Linked DNA regions of Homo sapiens: region 1 is linked to region 2. Evidence: fine-mapped expression QTL. A gene starts in region 2. The other region holds a variant in brackets. All regions are shown on one strand. Distances are from middle to middle. Region 1 has its middle 46 kb from the start of LINC02286. Region 2 holds the start of STXBP6 (syntaxin binding protein 6).

The links.
Region 1: its variant is fine-mapped to the expression of STXBP6 in fibroblasts (GTEx, PIP above 0.99).

Annotation. Positions count from the first base shown.
Region 1 is chr14:25,104,658-25,116,180 of GRCh38, reverse strand. No RefSeq gene overlaps it. Among named protein-coding and RNA genes, the nearest start is that of LINC02286, 46 kb to the left of the region's middle. The variant C/A (reference allele first, on the strand shown) is at 4,728.
Region 2 is chr14:25,044,919-25,056,441 of GRCh38, reverse strand. It overlaps STXBP6 (syntaxin binding protein 6), which reads left to right and starts at 6,295. Exons shown (of 6, transcript NM_001394410.1): 1 at 6,295-6,564. LOC124903295 (a long non-coding RNA gene) reads right to left here and starts at 6,098. Exons shown (of 2, transcript XR_007064091.1): 1 at 6,008-6,098; 2 at 3,852-4,216.

The DNA of each region.
Region 1 (11,523 bases), 60 kb before region 2:
TTTGAGATGTCATGCCTTTATGGGATGAACCAATGTATATCTTACATACATTCATTTATGTCTCTTTTTTTTTTTTAAATGATACTTTAAGTTCTAGGATACATGTTCAGAACATGCAGGTTTGTTACATAGGTATACACGTGCCATGGTGGTTTGCTGCACCCATCAACCCATCATCTACATTAGGTATTTCTCCTAATGCTATCCCTCCCCTTGCCCCCCACCCCCTGACAGGCCCCAGTGTGTAATGTTCCCCTCCCTGTGTCCATGTGTTCTCATTTTTCACCTCCCACTTATGAGTGAGAACATGCAGTGTTTGGTTTTCTGTTCCTGTATTAGTTTGCTGAGAATGATGGTTTCCAGCTTCATCCATGTCCCTGCAAAGGACACTAACTCATTCTTCTTTATGACTGCATAATATTCCATGGTATATATGTACCACATTTTCTTTATCCAGTCTATCATTGATGGGCATTTGGGTTGGTTCCAAGTCTTCGCTATTGTGAATAGTGCTGCAACAAACATACATGTGCATGTTTCTTTATAGTAGAATGATTTATAATCCTTTGGGTATATACCCAGTAATGGGATTGCTGGGTCAAATAGTATTTCTGGTTCTAGATCCTTGAGGAATCACCACACTGTCTTCCACAATGCTTGAACTAATTTTCACTCCCACCAACAGTGTAATAGTGTTCCTATTTCTCCACATCCTCTCTAGCATCTGTTGTTTCCTGACTTTTTAATGATCGCCATTCTAACTGGTGTGAGATGGTGTCTCATCGTGGTTTTGATTTGCATTTCTCTAATGACCGGTGATGATGAGCCTTTTTTCATGTTTGTTGGCTGCATAAATGTCTTCTTTTGAGAAGTGCCTGTTCATATGCATCACCCACTTTTTGATGGGGTTGTTTGTTTTTTCTCCTGGAGCAGATTTTTTTGGATCTCCTAACTGGAGCAGATTTCAGCATGCGTCTGTATTTCTGAATTAGATGCTGATACAGAATCATCCATGACCTTAAGTCATCATTCTCTGCCTCTGGCTCAGAAAGATAGTTGTATTCTACTGACTATTCACTTTTGTGTTGGGTTTATTTTATATTATAACAGTAATAAATGCTCAGTTTTCTTCCCAAAATTCAAACCATGCAGAAATGCATGAAGAGCAAAAGTCACTGCTCTACTCCTTCCCCATTCCACCTTCTCTTCCCCCAAAATAACCATTAAAGGATACATGTTCTTCCTGGCCTTTCTCTGTGTCACACAGAGGTATATGAGCACATAGGTATATCATTTTTGTTGTTCTTATTAACTTGCTTTTTGCACTCAATACATCCTGGATATCCATCCATGGAAGTATAATTAATTCAACCACCTTTTTAATTGGCTTTGTAAAGGGAAAAATGCCCTGTGATTTGTTTAACTCCTCCTTTGTGAATGGATATTTACTTAGTTTCATTTTTTTTTAAGTATATAATGATTAATTTCACTTGCTTTTTCCTGATCAGTTTCAACATTGGGCATATTCTCATGCTATATTGTGATGCTTCCTTTGAAGGCTATTAGGCTCCTGTGGATCCTTTGGAAGGTTGCTGTGGTCATCAGTACACAGTATCAGGCCACCTGGAGTTAATCTGGAACAAAGCAAACTGAGATTCTGGACAATGGAGCAGAACCATCCTTCATTCTCCCCTGGGCATCTCCCTATCTACCCATAGGCTTCCTCTTCCCTCTGTGAACTAACACAGAGGCTTGTGGGACTTAAATCGATAGTTCTCATGGGGCAAGTCATCAAGTTTGGGGAATATCTTAGTCTTCTTTATTCCTCAATTTATGGAAGAGTATTGGGCAACAATCTCTGAGAATTCTCAAAATGGCATTTAAAAAAGAACATGGATTTTAGAGACAGACAAATCTAAATCCTCCGTCTGTTAAATTCCTGATCTTGACCAAAACATTAAACATTTGTGTTAAGGGTGCTCCCAGGATTGCTGCAAGAATTAAATAGAATATTAGATGCTCAATAAATTTAAGAGTTCCTTTCATCTTCTTGTCTCCTTCTGTGTAGTGCCCTTGAATACCTGGGTCTCTCCTTCAACCCAACAAGGCATCAGTGCCAGCCAATATAGTCTTGCCCTCTCCTTGAATCATGGACTGGAGGCTGCTATTTGGTCTCGGTTCAGTCAGCTGATTTCTCTGAAGACTGGGTTTTTGTCCTTGCTCTTCTTTCACCTCATGTTTAGAAAGGAAAGATTTTCTTGAAGGACACTACTCCACCTAATTGTCCCATCCTTGTTTCTCTAAAACTTAAAAGCCTCTGGATTCCAAAGCCTACCTGACATTGGATCAAAATTCCCAAGCTTAGATTTAGACTTGACCTTCTCTTATTCATCATTCCTTTCGTCTCCCCCCACCCCATCATTCAGTCTCCATTTATGTTTCTGTGCCCCCATTCCCTCCAATCTGTGCCCCCATTCCCTCCAATTCCTGTGCTGGTTCTACCATAGCTTTCCTTTGCTAGAACAATGAGGCATTGCCATGCAGTCCATTAGGCTCCCAGAAGTTCACCTGGGCTGACTGTTTATCTTGGTTCTAGTAAATAATGCTGATAAAGAGAAGGAAGTAAAGTTGTCCAAGAGAAAGGTATGTTTCTCTCTCCTCTCTGTCCCTCTTTCTTGCCTATTAGTCACTCATGGTACAGGAAGCTCCCCTTTCTCCCAAATTGGGAAAATTTATCAGTCTATGGAGATAAATCTCTGACAAAGTCAAATAAATCAATGAGCATACAATTGCTTATTATGGGAGCAATGGGCAAGAGCAGAAAACAAAAATAGCCATTAATATTCCTCAGGTCTGAGATCAAGTTAAAACCTTATAGAAACTAATCAAAGCTTTCACCTTTTTATATTTGTACCTGGCTCTGTTATTATTAGAGTTATATATAAGTGCTTTTCTGAAACATATGCAAATATGATTGCCCGAATGGCAGAGGCATAATGTCAAGCATTCTGCTTTCATTAACAAATCTATCAGAACTTGCCCCTTAGCTTTATCACTAAGACCGTTAGTGTCTTTAAGTATTAAATAATCATAATAATAAAGAAGGAAAATGTTGTATATAATTTGCAGAGGTGCTATCTGTATTCATTAGGATATTATTTCAGCTGTTTAAACAGAGACCAAATCACAATAGCTGAAAACTAGATAAAAGGTTATTTCTCTCATTAAAGTTCAATCGATAGGTTCAGCAGGTACACACTGTACTCCACAAGATCACCCAGGGATCAAAGCTCCTTCTATCTTGTTTTGTCATTTCTTACAGTGTTGTTCTTGTCATGGTCTAAACCAGCTTACCCCACTGCCACATTTATCCATCAGCCTATGGGAAAAGGGAAAAAGGATGTGGAAGGTAAGCAGCTTCCTTTTGGGAACATGATCTAGAATTTTGGACGTTATTTCTGCTCACATGCCATTGGCCAGAACTTGATTGTGTGGCCACACCTTGCTAAGAGAAACTGTGAAATGTAATTTCTAATTGAACAGTCATGTGTCCACTTAGACCTCAGGTGGTTCTGTTACCAAACTTCACCGTGCCACATATACAACTTCTATCCTACTTAAAAATATATATTTTAATAATCATTTCCCCATGCTGTTAATAAATCTTCATGAACATCATCTTTAATGACTATGTAATGGTTGTACCTATGAAAGTATTTCCCTGCTGTCAAACATGTAGGTAGTTTCCAGTTGGGGATTTTATACATAGTACTGCAGTTAATATCTGCCATATGAATCTTTATTTGCTTTTCTGGTTATTTCCTTGGTATTTATTCCTACAGGTAAGACTGTTTACTGAAAAGTTATACCAATTAACCTTCTCCTCAGAAGCAAATGAGGGGGCTACATTTTACACCACCATCACTTGCAATAATTTGGTCTTATTTTTTATCTTTGCAAATTTGAACAATTTAAAATTATATCTAATTATAATTTTAAATTTCATTCCTTTAATTATTAGTGCATTTATTACTCATGAATTTTAACATGTTTCTGGTATTTATTAATTATTTGTATTATTTCTCTTAAGAATTCATCTTTGCCCATTTATTATCTTAGCTTTTTTCCAACTGTAGAACAAGATAGTAATAGTACCTGCATAATAGGGTATGGTGAGAATCAAACAAGAAAAGGAATGACAGAAACTTTGTTTCTTCTGGTTTCTTCTGAACAAGTTCTTCAGACTTGGGCTCAGTCTATGTTGTAGCTACAATGGAGTGGTCTGAAGAGCCCTCATCACTCTGCCGCACAACCCCATCTTATTTTCTTCATCGTACTGATGATGATCAAAGATTCTATTTTTCAATGGTTTACTTATTTTTGTCCCTCCCCTTCCCCACTAGAACCAGGCCCTGGTCTCTCTTCTCTACTCATATTTCTTTATCACCAAAACAGCATCTGCCACACAGTAGATGCTCAATTAATATTTTCTAGATAAATAAATAAACCTCCTTCCCTCACTGCCAGAATCTCTTGACCTTGTTAAAAACTTAGGCATAGTCTTCAATTACCTCTTTGACAAAGACAAGATGTGATGCCCCCAACAAACCCTCCCACATTCATGCATACTCACTGACTCATGCTTCTAGGCTCTTCTTGCCTCAGCCCCCATCTGTCACGCTTACAATCCCAATTCAAAGTGCCACCATCAGTTGCTCTCTAACATT[C/A]CACTGAACTGCATCACACATCTGGCATGGTTTCTACTAAAACATACAAGTTTCTAATTAGGAGTAGTCTCTAATGTAGTCTCTAATCAAGAATGAAAAGAGAAGGCAAAAAAGAGGAGAAGAACTCTGATCTGGCTGACTATAAAATGTTATCCTCATGCAGAAAGGAATGTGGCTGCCTGACTTTCTGGTTGGAATCTGAGAGCTAGCAACAGGCTGTGTTGGTAACAGAGAGCTTTTTCATATCCTCTGCCAGATGATGTGTACTTTTCCACACCACAGGGTGGAACAAATGGAATCCATGACTGTGCTTCTCAATCCAACACCACTGATGTGGCAGGATTTGGAAATTCTCAAGTCCAGCACGTAGTCTTTCCTGCTTATCAGAGCTTATCCTGCTTATCAGAGCTGCTGCAATTAAAAAATATATACTTGTACATTTTGAGATGGATTTTCATGGGGTGTTAGGAGAGAACAGATGTGGTCCCTCTATCTAGAATAAAAGTCTAGTTAATGTCAAATTTTAAATTTGCTTTATTTAGCATGCAGTAAGAGGTATCGTACATTTTTTTCTTCAATGACTTGTCCTGTTTTACTTTTGTTGCTTCAGAATTAATATGAATAGTTTCAAATGCATTTTAATATTTGAAAATTAATTCCACTTTAATTGGCAACTATTATGGTCTATAGGAATAAACGTTTTTGAGACCTAATAATTAAGGAATTAAATTTTAGAGTCTCTTTGACAAATTAAAAAGCAGGGAGAACATATTAATTGTTTTTGGAACTTAGGTCTGAATACTCCCTAATAAAAATGTGAGCTATCTTTCTGAAGTTCCCATGGAAGGCATACCTCCAGTTCTCTCAATTCCGAAGCCTCTCTCAAACTCTGCTTCTCTTCCTGCACATACTCAGTTCCTTTCTGAATTGAATGGAAGTCCTCTTTGGTAAACCTACTTCAAAAGTATGTTCTGACCACCCTTAACCCCAGATCTTCCCATCTTGAAACAAGGTAAAATACCCTCTTCTCTCATTGTTCTATTTAAAAGTGTCTATAAACTCATGAAAAGACTGCATGTTACTTTAGAGTCACACAAGACACATTTTTTACTGGAGATTCACTGGCAAGGGAATAAGTGGTTGGCCAGATAAATCTTTTCATGTGTCCCATTGTCTCACTATGTCCTAAATGTTCATTCAACGAGGCTGTCTATTGTGGCCAACATTCAGCATGCCTGCAACTAAAGCAGACTTTGTTGTTACTTCAGTCTTTTCCAGATACGGCCTGGGATTTACATCTGGGGAGCAAGGATATAGCAGCCCAAGAATAATTAGATGGGGCAAAATATTTACCCTGATGAATAAGGCACTGACATGGCAAGCAAACCAAAATATCCCCAGTCACAGATACAATGACAAACTCTCTCTCCAAGTCCTCCTGTCCTACTGTTGTTTGAGTGATTATACCTAATTCCATCTCAATTCCTCTCAATGTTCCTCACAAATTGATGACCTAATACTTCATGCCAGGATATTCTTGGTTATACTGGATTTCTAAGGCATTTTAATTATCATTATGCGTTCAGGGATACTGATTTCTACAATACAGAAAATGTTGAAACTTACAAGTCTGTGAAACCAGAACTTACAAAACCTATCTTGTTCTGAGTAGCATTGAAACTGTCAAGGGATAAATTGGTATTTAATAAAATTATCTTTTTATTATTACCATGGGAACTCTCCACAGTACACAAATACAGATGCTGACAAGGAATAAAATACCCAGCACCTCTGGCATATATTAATATAAAGGCAACGTAAAAAGACATACAAATATACAAAATTCTAAAATAACTACTCAGGACAATGTTTAAAAGTTTCCAAGGTTTTCAGTTTAGAAGACCAATTTTTTACAAAGTTCTAGTATGTCAACAAAAGTGGGTATCAGTAAGACCTAGCCCAGTAGCTAATGAATCTGGAAAATTCAATCTAAACAGGACTGTCTTTTTTCCATAGTAATTTAAAAGACATTACATATCAGATGTTCCAAGATTATTCTTCAGAAGAGTTCAGAGAAATGGCTTTGATAATGACAGCTTTGAATGTGGGCAGATCTTCATTTCTAAGAGGAAATCTGAAACTAGGTTGTGGCAGTGACAGTCACAGGATCCTACAAGCAAGGTCACTGTTAGGAAAGTCAGTAGCATGCCATCCTCTCAGCTGATAGGAATGGGGCCTTGGGCCTGAAATACTTCCTTACCAAGAGATAAAGAGTCCTCACGGCCTGTGCTGGACTTGTCGCCTTGGGTGGGAATATCTTTCCCTGTTTCAGACTCAATGTATGCTCCTTTGTTCTGCATAAGCATGTGTGTTATTTGGCACCTGGCCAACCCCATGATTATATCTGTTCCCTGTGGAAAGGGAGTGGCATTCTTCCAATATAGCACAAGAGGGGTGTGTGCAGGCCAATGACCCTGTGCCAGCTGCCAGGAGGGACCCCCTGGCCATGGAGGACCAATACCTACCACTGAAGCTGACCTCACTCCATCTCTTTTCTTTATGAGTGAAGCATTGCTCCATCCAGTACTTCACTGCTTTGGGTTTTCCTTGGAGACTCCAATACCAAGATGCAGTGGGCAGAAGTGCTCCTACTTCTGCTTCTGATAATAGGCAACAGATGCCACTTGCTTGACAGTCATGCTTTAGATGCGGCAAGAGTCCTGCCTCATAAGCACCTTAGAATGAGAATAAGTTGAAAATGCTAAGCTAGCTGCAGTAGCAGATGAGCTTCCAAGTTATCCTGCAGGACTTGTAACATCACATAGACATCACTAAGATGGGTTCATCCAGAGGAGATGTGGAGGGAACACTGAACACTGTTTGTCTTGAAGAAGTTGTAGAAACTCCTAGGAAAAGCAGTGTACTGACCTGGATTTAATTTGTGAACCCAACCCAACGGTGAGCCAACAATGAACTCACTGAGTTGCAATAGGCCATCGAGGCCATGTGATCTAAACATTTGCATCATTATTTCACAGAGGCCAGCCTGCCAAACAGCTGTATCAGAATCCACCTGGGGGAACATTCTTTTTTTTTTTTAAATACTTTAATTTCTGGGATACATGTGCAGAACATGCAGGTTTGTTACATAGGTATACACATGCCATGGTGGTTTGTTGCACCCATCGACCCATCATCTACATAAGGTATTTCTCCTAATGCTACCCCTCCCCTAGCCCCCCACCCCTGACAGGCCCCAGTGTGTGATGTTCCCCTCCCTGTGTCCATGAGTTCTCATTGTTCACCTCCCACTTATGACTGAAAACATGCAGTGTTTGATTTTCTGTTCCTGTGTTAGTTTGCTGAGAATGATGGCTTTCAGCTTCATCCATGACCCTGCAAAGGACATGAAGTCATTCTTTTGTATGGCTGCATAGTATCCATGGTGTATATGTGCCACATTTTCTTTATCCAGTCTATCATTGATGGGCATTTGGGTTCCAAGCCTTTGCTATTGTGAATAGTGCTTCAATAAATATACATGTGCATGTGTCTTTATAGGAGAATGATTTATAATCCTTTAGATACATACCCAGTAATGGGATTGCTGGGTCAAATGGTATTTCTGGTTCTAGACCTTTGCAGAATCGCCAACACATTGTCTTCCACAGTGGTAGAACTAACTTACACTCCCACTAACAGTGTAAAAATGTTCCTATTTCTCCACATCCTCTTCAGCATCTGTTGTTTCCTGACTTTTTAATGATCACCATTCTAACTGGCATGAGACGGTATCTCACTGTGGTTTTGATTTGCATTTCTCTAATGACCAGTGATGATGAGCTTTTTTTCATATGTTTGTTGGCCACATAAATGTCTTTTTTGGGGAAGTGTCTGTTCAGATCCTTCGCCCACTTTTTGATGGGGTTGTTTTTTTCTTGTAAATTTATTTAAGTACTTTGTAGATTCTGGATATCAGCCTTTTGTCGGATGGATTGCAAAAATTTTCTCCCAAACTGTAGGTTGCCTGTTCACATTGATGATAGTTTCTTTTGTGTGCAGAAGCTGTTTAGTTTAATTAGATCCCATTAGTCAATTTTGGCTTTTGTTGTCATTGCTTTTGGTGTTTTAGTCATGAAGTCTTTGCCCATGCCTATATCCTGAATGGTATTGCCTAGGTTTTCTTCTAGAGTTTTTACAGTTTTAAATGTTACATTTATGTCTTTAATCCATCTTGAGTTAATTTTTGTATAAGGTTTAAGGAAGGGGTCCAGTTTCAGTTTTCTGCATATGGCTAGCCAGTTTTCCCAACACCATTTATTAAATAGGGGATTCTTTCCCCATTGCTTGTTTTTCTCAGGTTTGTCAAAGATCAGATGGTTGTAGATGTGTGGTTTTATTTCTGAGGCCTTCATTCTGTTCCATTGGTCTATATATCTGTTTTGGTACCAGTACCATGCTCTTTTGGTTACCATAGCCTCGTAGCATAGTTTGAAGTCAGGTAGCATGATGCCTCCAGCTTTATTCTTTTTGCTTAGGATTGTTCTTTGCTATGCAGGCTGTTTTTTGGTTCCATATGAAAATTAAAGTAGTTTTTTCTTATTCTGTGAAAAAAGTCAATGGTAGCTTGATGGGGTTAGCATTGAATCTATAAATTACTTTGGGCAGTATGGCCATTTTCATGATATTGATTCTTCCTATCCATGAGCATGGAATGTTTTTCCATTTGTTTGTGTCCTCTGTTATTTCACTGAGCAGTGGTTTGTAGCTCTCCTTGAAGAAGTCCTTCACATCCCTTGTAAGTTGTATTCCTAGGTATTTTACTCTCTTTGTAGCAATTGTGAATGAGAGTTCACTCATGATTTGGTTCTCTGTTTGTCTATTATTGGTGTATAGGAATGCTTGTGATTTTTGCACATTGATTTTTATCCCGAGACTTTGCTGAAGTTGTTTAACAGCTGAAGGAGATTTTGGGCTGAGATGATGGGGTTCTCTAAATATACAATCATGTCATCTACAAACAGACAATTTGACTTCCTCTCTTCATCTTTGAATACCTTTGTTTCTTTCTCTTGCCTGAATGCCCTGCCCAGAACTTCCAATACTATGTTCAATAGTAGTGGTGAGAGAGGGCATCCTTGTCCTGTGTTGGTTTTCAAAGGGAATACTTCCAGCTTTTGCCCATTCAGTATGATATTGGCTGTGGTTTGTCATAAATAGCTCTTATTATTTTGAGATCCATTCCATCAACACCTAGTTTATTGAGAGTTTTTAGCATGAAGGGGTGTTGAATTTTATCAAAGGCCTTTTCTGCATCTATTGAGATGATCATGTGGTTTTTATCATTGGTTGTGTTTATGTGACGGATTATGTTTATCAATTTGCTTATGTTGAATTTGCGTGTGCATCCCAGGGATGAAACTGACTTGATCATGGTGGATAAGCTTTTTGATGTGCTGCTGGATTCGGTTTGCCAGTATTTTATTAAGGATTTTTCTCATCGATGTCATCAGGGATATTGGCCTGAAATTTTCTTTTTTTATTATGTCTCTGCCAGGTTTTGGTATCGGGATGATGCTGGCCTCATAAAATGAGTTAGGGAGGAGTCTCTCTTTTCAAATTGTTTGGAATAGTTTCAGGAGGAATGGTACCAGCTCCTCTTTGTACCCCTGGTAGAATTCGGCTGTGAATCCATCTGGTCCTGGGCTTTTTTTTGGTTGGTAGGCTATTAATTACTGCCTCAATTTCAGAACATGTTATTGGTCTATTCAGGGATTTGACTTCTTCCTGATTTAGTCTTGGGAGGGTGTAGGTATCCAGGAATTTATCCATTTCTTCTAGATTTTCTAGTTTATTTGCGTAGAAGTGTTTATGGTATTCTCAGATGGTAGTTCATATTTCTGTGGGATCAGTGGTGATAGCCCCTTTATCATTTTTTATTGTGTCTATTTGATTCTTCTCTCTTTTCTTCTTTATTAGTCTGGCCCCTCTGCTGCAGGTCTGGTAGAGTTTGCTGGAGGTCCCTTCCAGACCCTATTTGCCTGGGTATCACCAGCAGAGGCTGCAGAACAACAAAGATTGCTGCCTGTTCCTTCCTCTGGAAGCTTCGTCCCAGAGGGGCACCCACCAGATGCCAGGCAGAGCTCACCCATATGAGGTGTCTGTTGGCCCCTGCTGGGAGGTGTCTCCCAGCCAGGAGGCATGGGGGTCAGACACCCACTTGAGCCGGCAGTCTGTCCCTTAGCAGAGCTTGAGAGCTGTGCTAGGAGATCCTCTGCTCTCTTCATAGCCAGCAGGCAGGGATGTTTAAGTTTGCTGAAGCTGCACCCACAGACGCCCCTTCCCCCCGGTGCTCTGAGGGAGATGGGAGTTTTGTCTATAAGCCCCTGACTGGAGCTGCTGCCTTTTTTCAGAGATGCCCTGCCCAGAAAGGAGAAATTTAGAGAGGAAGTCTGGCTACAGTGGCTTTGTGGAGCTGTGGTGTGCTCTTCCGGGTTCAAACTTCCCAATAGCCTTTGTTACACTGTGAGGGGAAATGGTCTACTCAAGCCTCAGTAATGGCGGATGCCCCTCCCCTCAATAAGCTGGAGTGTCCCAGGTCAAATCCAGACAGCTGTGCTGGCAGCCAGAATTTCAAGCCTGTGGATCTTAGCTTGCTGGGCTCCATGAGGTTGGGATCTGCTGAGCTAGACCACTTGGCTCCCAGCTTCAGCCTCCTTTCCAGGGGGGTGACCGGTTCTTTCTCGTTGGCATTCCAGGTGCTACTGGGATATTAAAAAAAAACTCCTGCAGCTAG
Region 2 (11,523 bases):
GCTTGTATTTGGAAATACAGTAATAGGTGGAAACACTAGGACATCTGGACAAGAGAAGGTAGAAATTTTTTAAAAGCACTTTCTATGTATATAACATTTTCTGTGTGTGAAAAAAGAAATGCTATATTCCATCTGTAGAGTAAAATAGGATTGCCTGTGGCAAAGGCAAGGCTTCTAAGAAACAGCTCAGACTGGAAATTCAAAACACACTCTGGGTTTCCCCCTTCCATTTTTCTTGAAGTTACCAAGATGAGTGGTCATGGGATGAAAGTGCAATATTTATTCAGCATTTGCCGTGGGCCAGATACTGTTCTAAGCATATTACATATGTGCTCCCTTTTAATCCTCCAATTACAACTATAAATAGATCTTAATATGCCTATTTTAGAGATAAGACAGCTGACAGAAAAGTTGTAGAAGATCATAAAGCAAGGAGTTGGAACAGAATTTCAAACCCACATTTGTCCAATATAAAATCCATACACTTTTTACCACGGCATGGTGCCTCCTAATACCAGATTTCTTGGTGTCTCTTGCTGAGGACAGTTTGCTTTTTGTGGCAGCTGTCCTTATTAGATGTTGGGTTACATAGAAAAGTCTGTGGGATTGGCAACAGGTCAAACTTAAAGACCTTTAAGATTCCTTCCAACCTTTACATACATCCTCCCACCATAGTGCCTTTGTATATGCTATTTTCTCTGCCTGAAATTCTCTTTGCTTTTTTTTTTTTTTTTGCCTATTTAACTACTTCAGATTTATCCTGCAGACCTTAGCTTAATCATTTCTTCAAAACAGTCTTCTTTTCCTTTGTTCTGTTCACTGTTTCTACTACACACTTTTTTTTTTTTGACAGAGTCTCACTCTATCACCCAGAATGGAGTACAGTGGCACGATCTCGGCTCACTGCAACCTCCGCCTCCCAGGTTCAAGTGATTCACCTGCCTCAGCCTCCCAAGTAGCTGGTATTACAAGCCTGTACCACCACACCCAGCTAATTTTTGTATTTTTAGTAGAGATGGGGTTTCACCATGTTGCTCGGGCTGGTCTTGAACTCCTGACTTCAGGTGATCCACCCACCTTGGCCTCCCAAAGTGCTGGGATTATAGGCGTGAACCACTGCGCCCAACCTTACTACGCACTTTTAATAACGCAATGTACCTTTTGATTGTGTAACTTATCACAGATGCAATTTTACATTTATATGTGTGTTCTAAATATCAGATTCCTTATCTCTAAAATGAACTATTTGTCTCCTGTCCCCAGTGACTCACCTGAATGATAACAAGTTGTAACTGTTATTTGTTGATTGTCTCTTTCCTCTGTGCTAGGTGTTTGGTGAGGTAATCAAAGATCCTTAAGACTTGTTCTCGGCACTCAAGGAACTAATAATCTGATTGAAAGGGTGTTGCTAAGAAATATAAAATGATTACAGAGCAACCAAGTTCAGGATGTAACCACATCTTTTGCAAGAAAAAACTGCTTTCTTTTGTTTTTTTCCAAAGAACTATCTCTCCTTCTAATCTATGTCTTACTTATAAACACTGGCATATGAAAGCTGATGCAGTTTCAGGAATAAAGTAATATAATTAGAAAACTGGAAAGAAGCTTGGAGAACAGTGGAAAACCGATAAAGGTGAGAAGGAAGAAATGAGAACCACAGTTTGCCACATATCTCAGAAATGTTCCATCTTATAGTGAATGATAGTGGGCCAAAGCTCACCAAATTTGATATCAGCAGTCAATATTTATCTTGACTCTTAAAAGCAGAGCAGAGAAGGAACTATATGTTTAGTAAATTAGAGATAAAATGTGGACCATGTCACCTCAGTCAAAAAAGAAGGTGGACTCCAGTTATAGACAGCTAGAACCCTTAAAGGATAAAACCACAGACCAAGGGTAATTGTATAGGAAACAGAATAGGGTCCCAAATATAAGCTCCATAAGCCCATCTGAATTCCGAAGGTCTCCCAGATCCCATCATACCGATGTTACCAGAAGCGACACATTTCATTCCCAATTTACAAATGGCACATACATACAGTAGGCGCAGACCTCTCCCTAGTCTGGAGGTGCTCACTGCTACTGGCAAGACAGCCATTGTGAAAGTCAAAATGAAATCCTAAACTTTAAAAGAATCCATATTTTTAAAGTAAAAGGGTGAGAAGAAATTACAAAATGTATAAAAATGGGGAACTGAACCAAATGTTCCTGCTCCTCAATATATTATTTCTGCCCCTCACTACCAGGATTCTTTCTCTAGTCATTTTTCAAACTCCAAAATTTTCTTATGGAAATGTTCATTTGCAACTACAAGATACTCTTAAAATTGCATATGTCTTTGGAACGGCAGATAGTCTTGCACACGACTGTGAATTCATTTAATCAAGTTATTTTACTTAGTTCCAACTTGCAGCATACTAAATGAATGCTGATTGTTAAGAATAAAGAGCAAAGACAAGCTGATTGAGATAGAAAAAGGCCAGACAGAATGAGGACAATAGGTACAGGAAAAAGGATTTCAGGAGAATATTGGAGAAGTAAGGTGCAAAAAGAGCAGAAAGGAAAATAATTATTATTTTCACCTATTTCAAGGCCCAGAAAGGCCGGTGCTATACCCCTCAAAAGAGGAAGAGAAATTTATTTCTTTTTCTTGACCCTGTTGAACAGAATAGGCTCAGTTCCTAGGACCAGATGTGAATCTGGTACCATTACAAACCACAAACATTAAATAGGTTTTTTGGAACTAGCTTAGTGACATAGCTCTTGCAGGAAAATGTGATATTCTAAAAAACTTAAAGGAAGTCCTCTTACAGCTCTAGAACAAGGACTAACTTTGAGGAATATAATGAAGATGGAACATTTGAAATTTCCAATATTTTAGAAACTATGACCAACAAAAATGGCAGTTTCATATGGTTCAACCCAAAAGTTAATAAGCTGATGACTTCCTAAATGTCTTATCTGAAATTACATCATCAGAATGAAGAATTTGAAAAGCTACTTGCTACACCATGTAGCAGAAAAAAAAATTTTAAATATAGACTTTACTAGTCTTGAAGACATACTGTGATTGATGATGCATAAGAGATGCTGTTCAAAATAGTCACATTATAATACCCAATTCCAGATCAAGCCCTCTGTGTCCATGTCAATTTATTCCATTTGTTATTTAGACAGCACTTCCTTCAACAGCCGTAGGGAACCTAAGACATCTATATCCATGGGTGTTTTAGGTTGAGGTCGACAGTGGGCATTATGGGTTTCAGGGCAACTTTAGGTGAACTCAGTTTTCCCTTGTATCACTTAATGTGATTAATGTTCACATGGAGGGTTTTGCCACGTGATCTGGCATCCTTACAATCATGAGCTTACTTATGAAACAGGGAAGATCGCTTTTAGGTTTTCCTTTTCTTTCCCAGAATAGCAATTTAAAAGCCTCTAACTTAACATCTAGATGAACCATAAGGTCTTTTTCAGTTCTATCATTTTGTGATTAGATTTTATGGAAAAGAAAATGACTATGCTTGCTCTCACGTGCATAGGGTATTTCTATAACTATATGCAAGAAACAGGCAACATTAGTCTTTCTTGAGAAGGGAAACTTGCTTTTCCTTGTACTGAGCTTTTGTGCACTGAACTTTTTTTAAATACCATGTATTATTTGCTAACAAGAATTAAAAATACAATTTAAAATGTAAGCAAAGCATTTCACTTGTTAAAGTACAGAACCTCTCCCTGCATAAATGTTTAGTTCCTGTTCTTCTTGTTCTTCTTTATGACCTTACCATTATTGTGATTAAAAAAAAAAAAAAATCCTAGGCACTGTGGGAGGTGAAACAGATGCAGAAGACTTTGACGATGGAAATTGCTATTTATTCTGCAAATATTTGTAACTACTTGTTATGTGACAGATCCTGGGCTAGGTACTTCCTCCTTTACATGACTTCTGGAAGGCTTCTTGTTTAAACATCCACGGTCTTTTTTGTTTTTGTTTTTGTTTTTGTTTTCTTTGAGAGGTCTGCATGCTTAAAATGCTTCCCATAGATAAGCAGTGGTTTGTTCTCCATGAATGCAGCAACAAATTAGGTTACCTGCAGGGAGAATCACCTCCCACACTAAGGTAGGTCCCAGGTGTTTGAGGCAGACACTACCGTGATGACCGGTACATGAGTTAGAGAACACTTTGTACAGAGGGAGAGAGTCCTCTTGACTAGATCTGCAATATTGAGAACAAAAAGAGGCAAGTGAAGATAAAAAAGGAAGGTAGTAGAGGGAGATGACTGGCAATAGAAGCTAGTACAGTAGTATCTTACTTCACAAAATTATTGAGTTACCCAAAAGCTGATTCCAAAGTTTTGTAAATATCATCCCAACACATTAGAAAGGCTTGCTAAATTAAAGAAGCTTGCTACTTAGAGCTTTTGTCAAGCAAAAAGGCCCTTATTTCAATTCAAATTTTACATAGATGACTTGTAGGTAAGAACTCTCAACATTTTCAAAGCCCTTAGACATACATTTCTTTGGATTCTCACAAAAACGCCATGAGAATTGTTTTCCCTTCCACAGATGAGGAAAGTGAAGCTTAGAGGTTGAGCCACTTGCCCATGGAAGCCTGGTAGGGAAATGGCTGAGGTTAAGACCAGGACCCCGGCACACTACTCATTGGCACTAAGGTAGCCCCATGACATGTCTCTACAGAGATAGGCAGAGCAAAAGAAACTTACTTTTTCAGGCAATTTTCTCTGATTTTCATAAAACTGTAGCTACCAAATGGGGATACCTAGGGTATCAGTTTTATGATATCCTAGGTATCCCCGTTTCTCCCATTCTTCCCCTCCAAACCATCTTCCTGGGTCTGCTGCCCTGTCCATCTTCACAGAATTCAGTTCGGATTGTCTCCTCCCCCAGCATCTCTGCTATCTCCACGTAGTCTACAAACTAAGTGCAGGAGCCACAGACTGACAGTCAGGACTTCTGCCTGAGCCCCCATCCACAGCTCAAACCCTCTTTCCTATTTCACTATGCTAATGCTTACCCCTTGCACTCCAAACAAGCAGGTCTGTGTACCACCATCTAACACCCCAACAGGGCCAGGCTAGGGTGAGGTGAGTCACAGCACTTAAAGGTTCACCAAAGAATTCAGTAATCAAGGTTAATATTTTAATGGAATATTTAAAAAAATCAAAATTAATATCAAAAATGCATGATGAAAAATAACAAAATTTTAAATAAAGACAGGGTAAGTTTAGGGGTTTTTCCTATTGCTTCAGGCTCAAAAGTGCCTTCCGGGGCACTGTTATCGGCCCTGCAGTGACTCCCCACACAGATACTTTTACTAATGATGTTTCCCAAAAGTTAGTTCTTACAACCGCTTTCTACATTAGTAACGTCTTTCTTCTTGAACGCTCCAGCATTTAAGTGTAGCGCTCTACTGTCAGGAAAACCCATTTCCCCTAGTAACTAGTAGTACTTCGAAGATATTCTGAATCATCTTGGATCCTTTCCAGCACTTTCCCAAACCACAGTGAGCACTCAGCACCACTTCGCTAAAAGAGTGCAGAATCACAATGCTCAAATCACTGTCTGGGGGGTTCAGCAGGGAGGGGACGCAGATATGTTTTGTTTAGTCCAGGGTGTTTTGAGAAAATTGAATTTGTTATCAAGATTTTACAAATCAGGATATTGTACATGAATATACTCCGTCATTTCTGGAAAAATCAGAAAATCTAGCAACACTAGGTCTAATTCTTGCCCGATAGCAAGGGACCCTGAGAGCAGATAAGCGGCCCTGCCTTCGGAGCTCTCTCCAGTTCGCCTTCCCCCAGTTACAGTGCCTGTCAGGCCCCATTAGATCTTTGAGTTTGCTATCGTAAGAATAAAGGAAGGAGCGCACAGGATAAAAACCCATCGGCTGGGTCTATTCGTTTTTTCCTAGAGAAAAAAAAAAATGTTTCCTGGTTGTCCTTTCGAATATAGTCTCACAGAGAAGCTCACAGAAGCAGCCCACCTTTCTAGCCCACAAACTTCCCACAAGCCGTGAAAGTCGCACCGGCTCTTGCACCCAGATCGGTTTCTCCCGGGTCTTTGGCTCAGGGCCCCCGCCCCTACATTGGCCTTTCCCTTCCTCTGCCACCTCCGCGCTCCGAGGCCTGGGGCGGGTCGCGGGTCCCGGCCCCCAGCCCCCAGCCCCTAGCCGCTGCTCTTTGCCCCGGGCCAGGGCGCTCGGGCTCGCCCACGGCGGCACTGAGCATGCTCAGAGGCGGCCGCGCGGGCAGGTTTGCTTCGCAGGCGCTCGCACTCGGCGGCGGGCGGGCGCGCGGCTGCAGCTGGAGCTCCAGCGCCCGGAGTTGGAGTTGCCGGGAGTTTCCCCCCAACCCCTCCCTTTTCGCGCGCGGCAGCAGGAGCCGGCGCGGGAGCCGCGAGCGGCGGCGAGCCAGCACCCGGGCCGGCTAAGCCTTGTCCGGAGCCCGGAGCCCCGCGCGGGGCAGCCCCCCGGGGAGGAGCCTCGTGCTCTGGGACGCGTGCCGCGCACTGGCACGGCAGGGGCGCGAGCCAGGCTGCACGGTAGGACCGGGGCGAGGGGAGCCAGGCGGTCAGGGCGGAGGCCAAGCCCGGGAGATGCGGTTGCAGCCGCCACGGCTGTTGGGGCGCCTGGCGCTCCGTCCGAGGCGGGTGGCTGTGAGGCCAGGGGAGTAGGCAGGCTCCCAGAGAGATTCTTCCAAGTTGGCGGGTGGCGGGAGAGGGGGCCGCGCGCCCCGGCGCAGCTGCTTTGTGCGCGCAGAGAGGGACTCGTGTCCCTGGTTCTCTCCAACCCTGGGACCCGTTGTGCGGGCAGTATTGGGCAAGCCGCAGAACGGAGCGATTTCCTCCGAGAAAGTTGAGGATGGAGCCTTTTTTTCCGCACCGTCCCCGCGATGGCATGGGCCCCGAGAATGCTGCCCCGAGGCTCCCAGTGTGGGGGAGCTCGGGGTCGCTGCGCCTCTAGCTTGAGCGCAGAAATCCGCGAATCACTCCGATCTTCGCGAACTCTGGCATCTTCTAGGAAAATCATTACTGCCAAAACTGAGGCGAGCTTTTCTGGCGGGCACGGCACCCTGCCCCCAGGGCGCTGGCCCTGGGCGATGCCCCCTTTCCGATCTCAGGCTTGGTCAAGGGCGCCAGGTTCCGAATTCGCGCTTGCCGTGCACGCCGGCATCGAGCCTCACCAACACCGCCGGGCAACGTGGCTGGAGTAGGTGGGTGGCTTGATTTTCCCTCCAACCTTTCCTCAGGTTTACAACACCCCGCCACCTCACCACCCCACCCCGTTCATCTTCACAGAGGACAGGACCTGCAGGTGGAGAATTTGGAAAGACATCTTGTTCTTTAGGAGAAAGTCCCCGGGGTGTATCTGCCCTTGGTTCTGGCCCCAGGATTTCATAACGAACCTTCTCCCCTTCCTATTACGCTTCCCTAGGGACTGGGTGGGAGAGAATAGGATCGGTAGGTCCGCAGGAACTTCCATCTCATTCCACCCTCTCCTAAGATTGCCTTCCGGGCGACCCCAGGACCCTGGAACTGGCATTGTGCGGATTGTAAGGCTGTGGAGGATGCCGACGAATTTTTCCTGGCTCCACTTTTTTCACTTCTTGTTTTGAGTTTTGGGGTTTTGCCTGCACACTAGTCAGAGCTGCGCCCTAGTCAGAGCCACCCTGGGGGTGGAGGAGCTTCAGCCGAGGCTGTGAGCTGCTGTTCGTCTCAGAGGCTGCTAGTGGGAATCGGTCCAGAAATGATTATGCAGGCTAGAAATATGCCTCTCTTTTTTTCTTTTTTGGCTGAACACCTTGGCTGTTGGGTTTGTGTGTTACGTTCTTAAAGGGACACCCTCACACTGCTCAAGTGCCAGGATTTAGGGGCTCACCATTCTGCTGCCTGTTTTTCTCTTTGCTTTTTCCTTGAGGGTAGTCTGCTTTGGGGCCGATTTCTAGATGTGCGAATCACATAATGTGGATACACTACACAGTTCTAGAGTCAGACAGACTTGAGGTCAAGTTTCAGCTTTACAGCTGATGACAGTGCTGATGGACAAATGATTAGTCACTCTGAACTTAAGTTTTCTCTTCTGTCAAACGGAGATAATCGTGGCCTTACCTCCCTCCATTGCAGGGTTGTTGTAAACTCAGATGAGATAATGAAAATGAAAAGAGCTAAGAAAACTTTAAAAGCACCATTCAGGTCTTAGATATTGTCTCTGTGCTCTTTACTCAGTTGTTTTGAATGAGCTAATTCTTAATTATAACAAGACATCTAGGTCTTCTCTCCTCTCTGTCCACTCCTCACCAAGTGGTTTAGTTGCTTGGGCCTTTGGAAGCATCTGTTTACCCTTTTTCTTTCTCTATCCTCAAATCCATCTCTTTTGATTTTAAGAATTGGAGCTCCAGTCCTCATATTTATCTGAGGAAGGCAGCATGATGTAGATTAGGAGATGACTGGGGTGGCCTTATCAACATTCAGAGTCCTAGGCCCCAGAATTGGCACGGTCAGAAAGGCCTTAGTTTGAAACTCAAGGCTGATGAAGAAGTCAGCAGATCCTGGAATGGAGCTCTGACTTGACCTCTAATAGTGACCTTGAACTAAGGACTCAAATCCTAATCTGTGAAATCAGTCTATGAAGATTAAAAGCCAGTATCAATTGAAGGCAAGAACAGGTGAGATTATCACTCAGTTAAAAAGGGTTCACACAGGCTCCTGAGCCACCCCAGGTGCAGCATCTTCCCTAATCTTAGGGCAGTGGTTCTCAGATCAGAATCATCTGGAGGGCTTGTTACATCTCAAACTGTTGGGCTATACTGCCAGAGTCTCTGATTCTCTAGGTCTAGGGTGAAGGCCCAAGAATTAGCATTTCTGACTAGTTCCAGATGATGCTAATGGTGCTACAGACCATGCCTATAGAATCACTAACTTATGGAGTGGGAGATAGTAAGAGAGATGACGTTTGTTGTGAAATGCCATTATTTTACTAGCTCATATACAGAGACAAGGTTTCTTTGGGGGTGTGTTGGGAAGTCTCCTTAGGCATTTTATGTTCCAATGCCTGTGCCACTTACCATTATCTAGGTTTAATAATTCTGATTGCTCTTCAAATGGATGTATTTTACAAAGAGGTAGGATTCCCCCTTCTTTTCATACTGTAAAATATGTAGTCTCAGGTTTTAGATCACCCTTGGGTAGTGCCGGATTGGTGACCTTTATAATTTATAAAATCTAAAAACTACCCCATTTCCTTTTTTGGAGAAACCTCAGACATTTGTGGAAAGGAGGTTACGTACAGTTCTGACAGCTTGAACCTTAAGGTTGGAGGACAGAATAGATCACCTAGGGAACAAGTTTAAGAAGAATTTGCAGTGGTGTCTTTTCCGAATGGACAGCTTACCCAGGCCCTGGAAGGAGCATGAAGTACACCCCACGACAAATGTCCCATGGTGGTTAGACCTGGCAAAGCCCTTTCATTCCTTCTGGAGAATGGTAGTGGCATTGGCAGTGGCTGAGACCCTCTCTTCGTCTCTAAGAGGGTAGAAGGCTGGCTTTCAGGGGCAGCTGATCAGTATTAGTGTGGTGTCCTGTGTAACCTAGCTTGTAATGAAGCACTATTGGGACCTAACCCAATCTTAAGCTCTTTTCCTTTTCCCCCACGCCATAGTCCTGTGCTGTGAGCTCACCATGACTTCCTATGACCTAGACTGTGGCCTTGAATTTTGACTGCTTTGCATCAGAGAGGCTGTGGGAGCCTGCTTGAGTCAGGAGGGTTCCTGCAATAACATCCTAAGGAAGAAATAAAGTTTACATAATGTAGTGCCCAAATCAATTAGGTATAAGAGGAGGTCAGTCAGTGCCTTAACTAGTTCTTGTGTTGCTAGGCCAAATGGGATCCCAGCTCACTGTCATGCTTTATCTCAGCTGTCCATTTGTGCTTTGTTTTAGTTTTAAAATGATTAGCACTAGAGAAACCTATCAGTAAATCAGAAACCTTTAAAAAACTCAAGTGTACACTTAGTGTTTTAGTAGATAAAACTTTCAGGCCCAAACCTGTCTTCCTGACAGCAGTCAGCACTTGGTGAAGGAACAGCCTTCTGGTTGTCACTCTTAAGATTCATTAGTTAATTTCAATGGTTTTTCCCACTTAGTATAAGTAGGGAACATTTCTATTTTAAAATTTCTTCCCATAACCTGATGTTTATATTTTGGGTGTTACCCCTGCTTTGAGGGCAGCCTCTTATCACTGTTGTTCACTTTTCTCAGTACATGGTATCTTTGCTCCCTTTAATAAATCTGTTGTGAGACGGTCATTATGACACTTTATTTCTTTTTGGTCATTAGGACTGTTATTACTGAGTCACAGAGAGTCAGGGCCCATTCCTAGAGCATTATTCTCTATGTTCCTAGAGGGTGCTTTTAAACTAAAACACTAGTTATACTGCACTAGCTCATTTCTAAGATACATTCTTTTTCTGATTTCAGAAGCCCAGATGGATCTTAAAAATTATGAACACATTTAGGCCAGGTGCAGTGGCTCACACCTGTAATCCCAGCGCTTTGGGAGGCTGAGGCGGGTGGATCACCTGAGGTCAGGAGTTCAAGAGCAGCCTGACCAACATGATGAAAACCTGTCTCTACTAAAAATACAAAAACAAATTAGCTGGATGTGGTGGTGGGCACCTGTAATACCAGCTACTCGGGAGGCTGAGGCAAGAGAATTGCTTGAATCTGGGAGACGAAGGTTGCAGTGAGCCGAGATCGTGCCATTGCACTCCAGCCTGGGCAACAAGAGTGAATCTCCATCTCAAAAAAAAAAAAAAAGAAAAGAAAAAAAAAGTATGAACGCATTTAATGTGCAGTTTTTTTTTCTTCTGTAACCTAGTATGTTAGTGTAGTGACTATCAATTGATGACATCCTCAAACAAAGCAAGGTTAGTTCCTTATTCTGGTAGAAAATATGGTTTCTACTCAATGCTGTCCAGCTGATTGAATTGCTGAGCAGTTAGCTCAGCAGTTCCGAGAATATGTTGGGTAAAGTGCTGTTGGGGTGGGTATTAATCAGTTTGCTCTTATAAAGGGCAAATCCATTTGGGAAGCACTGCCTATTATTTTTTTTTCCTCTTGTAGAGATTCTCAACATGGGCATCATTATATCAAAGACTATGAGAAGTACTATAGTTAACTATATCAACGACAAAAACTTGGTTACATTTATTCAAGTCAGCGTTTCCCAGAATACAGAATTTTCTGAGGTTATATATGTATCTTTTAGGACTCCATTACTGAGTTAGCACAAACCACAATTTTAATATGTGATTTAATATTGTGGGTGGGATGGTTTCACCTAGTATATCCCGAAAATATAGGGACATTCATTAAGTATGGCTATTAATTAATTAACTCTATAAGTGGTTACTTATTTTTTATTTCAGAGTAGAGAAGAACATTTTAAGCTGTAGTGGCTAAGAAAGTCTCCACGAAGGAGCTGGACTGTGATAATATAAATGG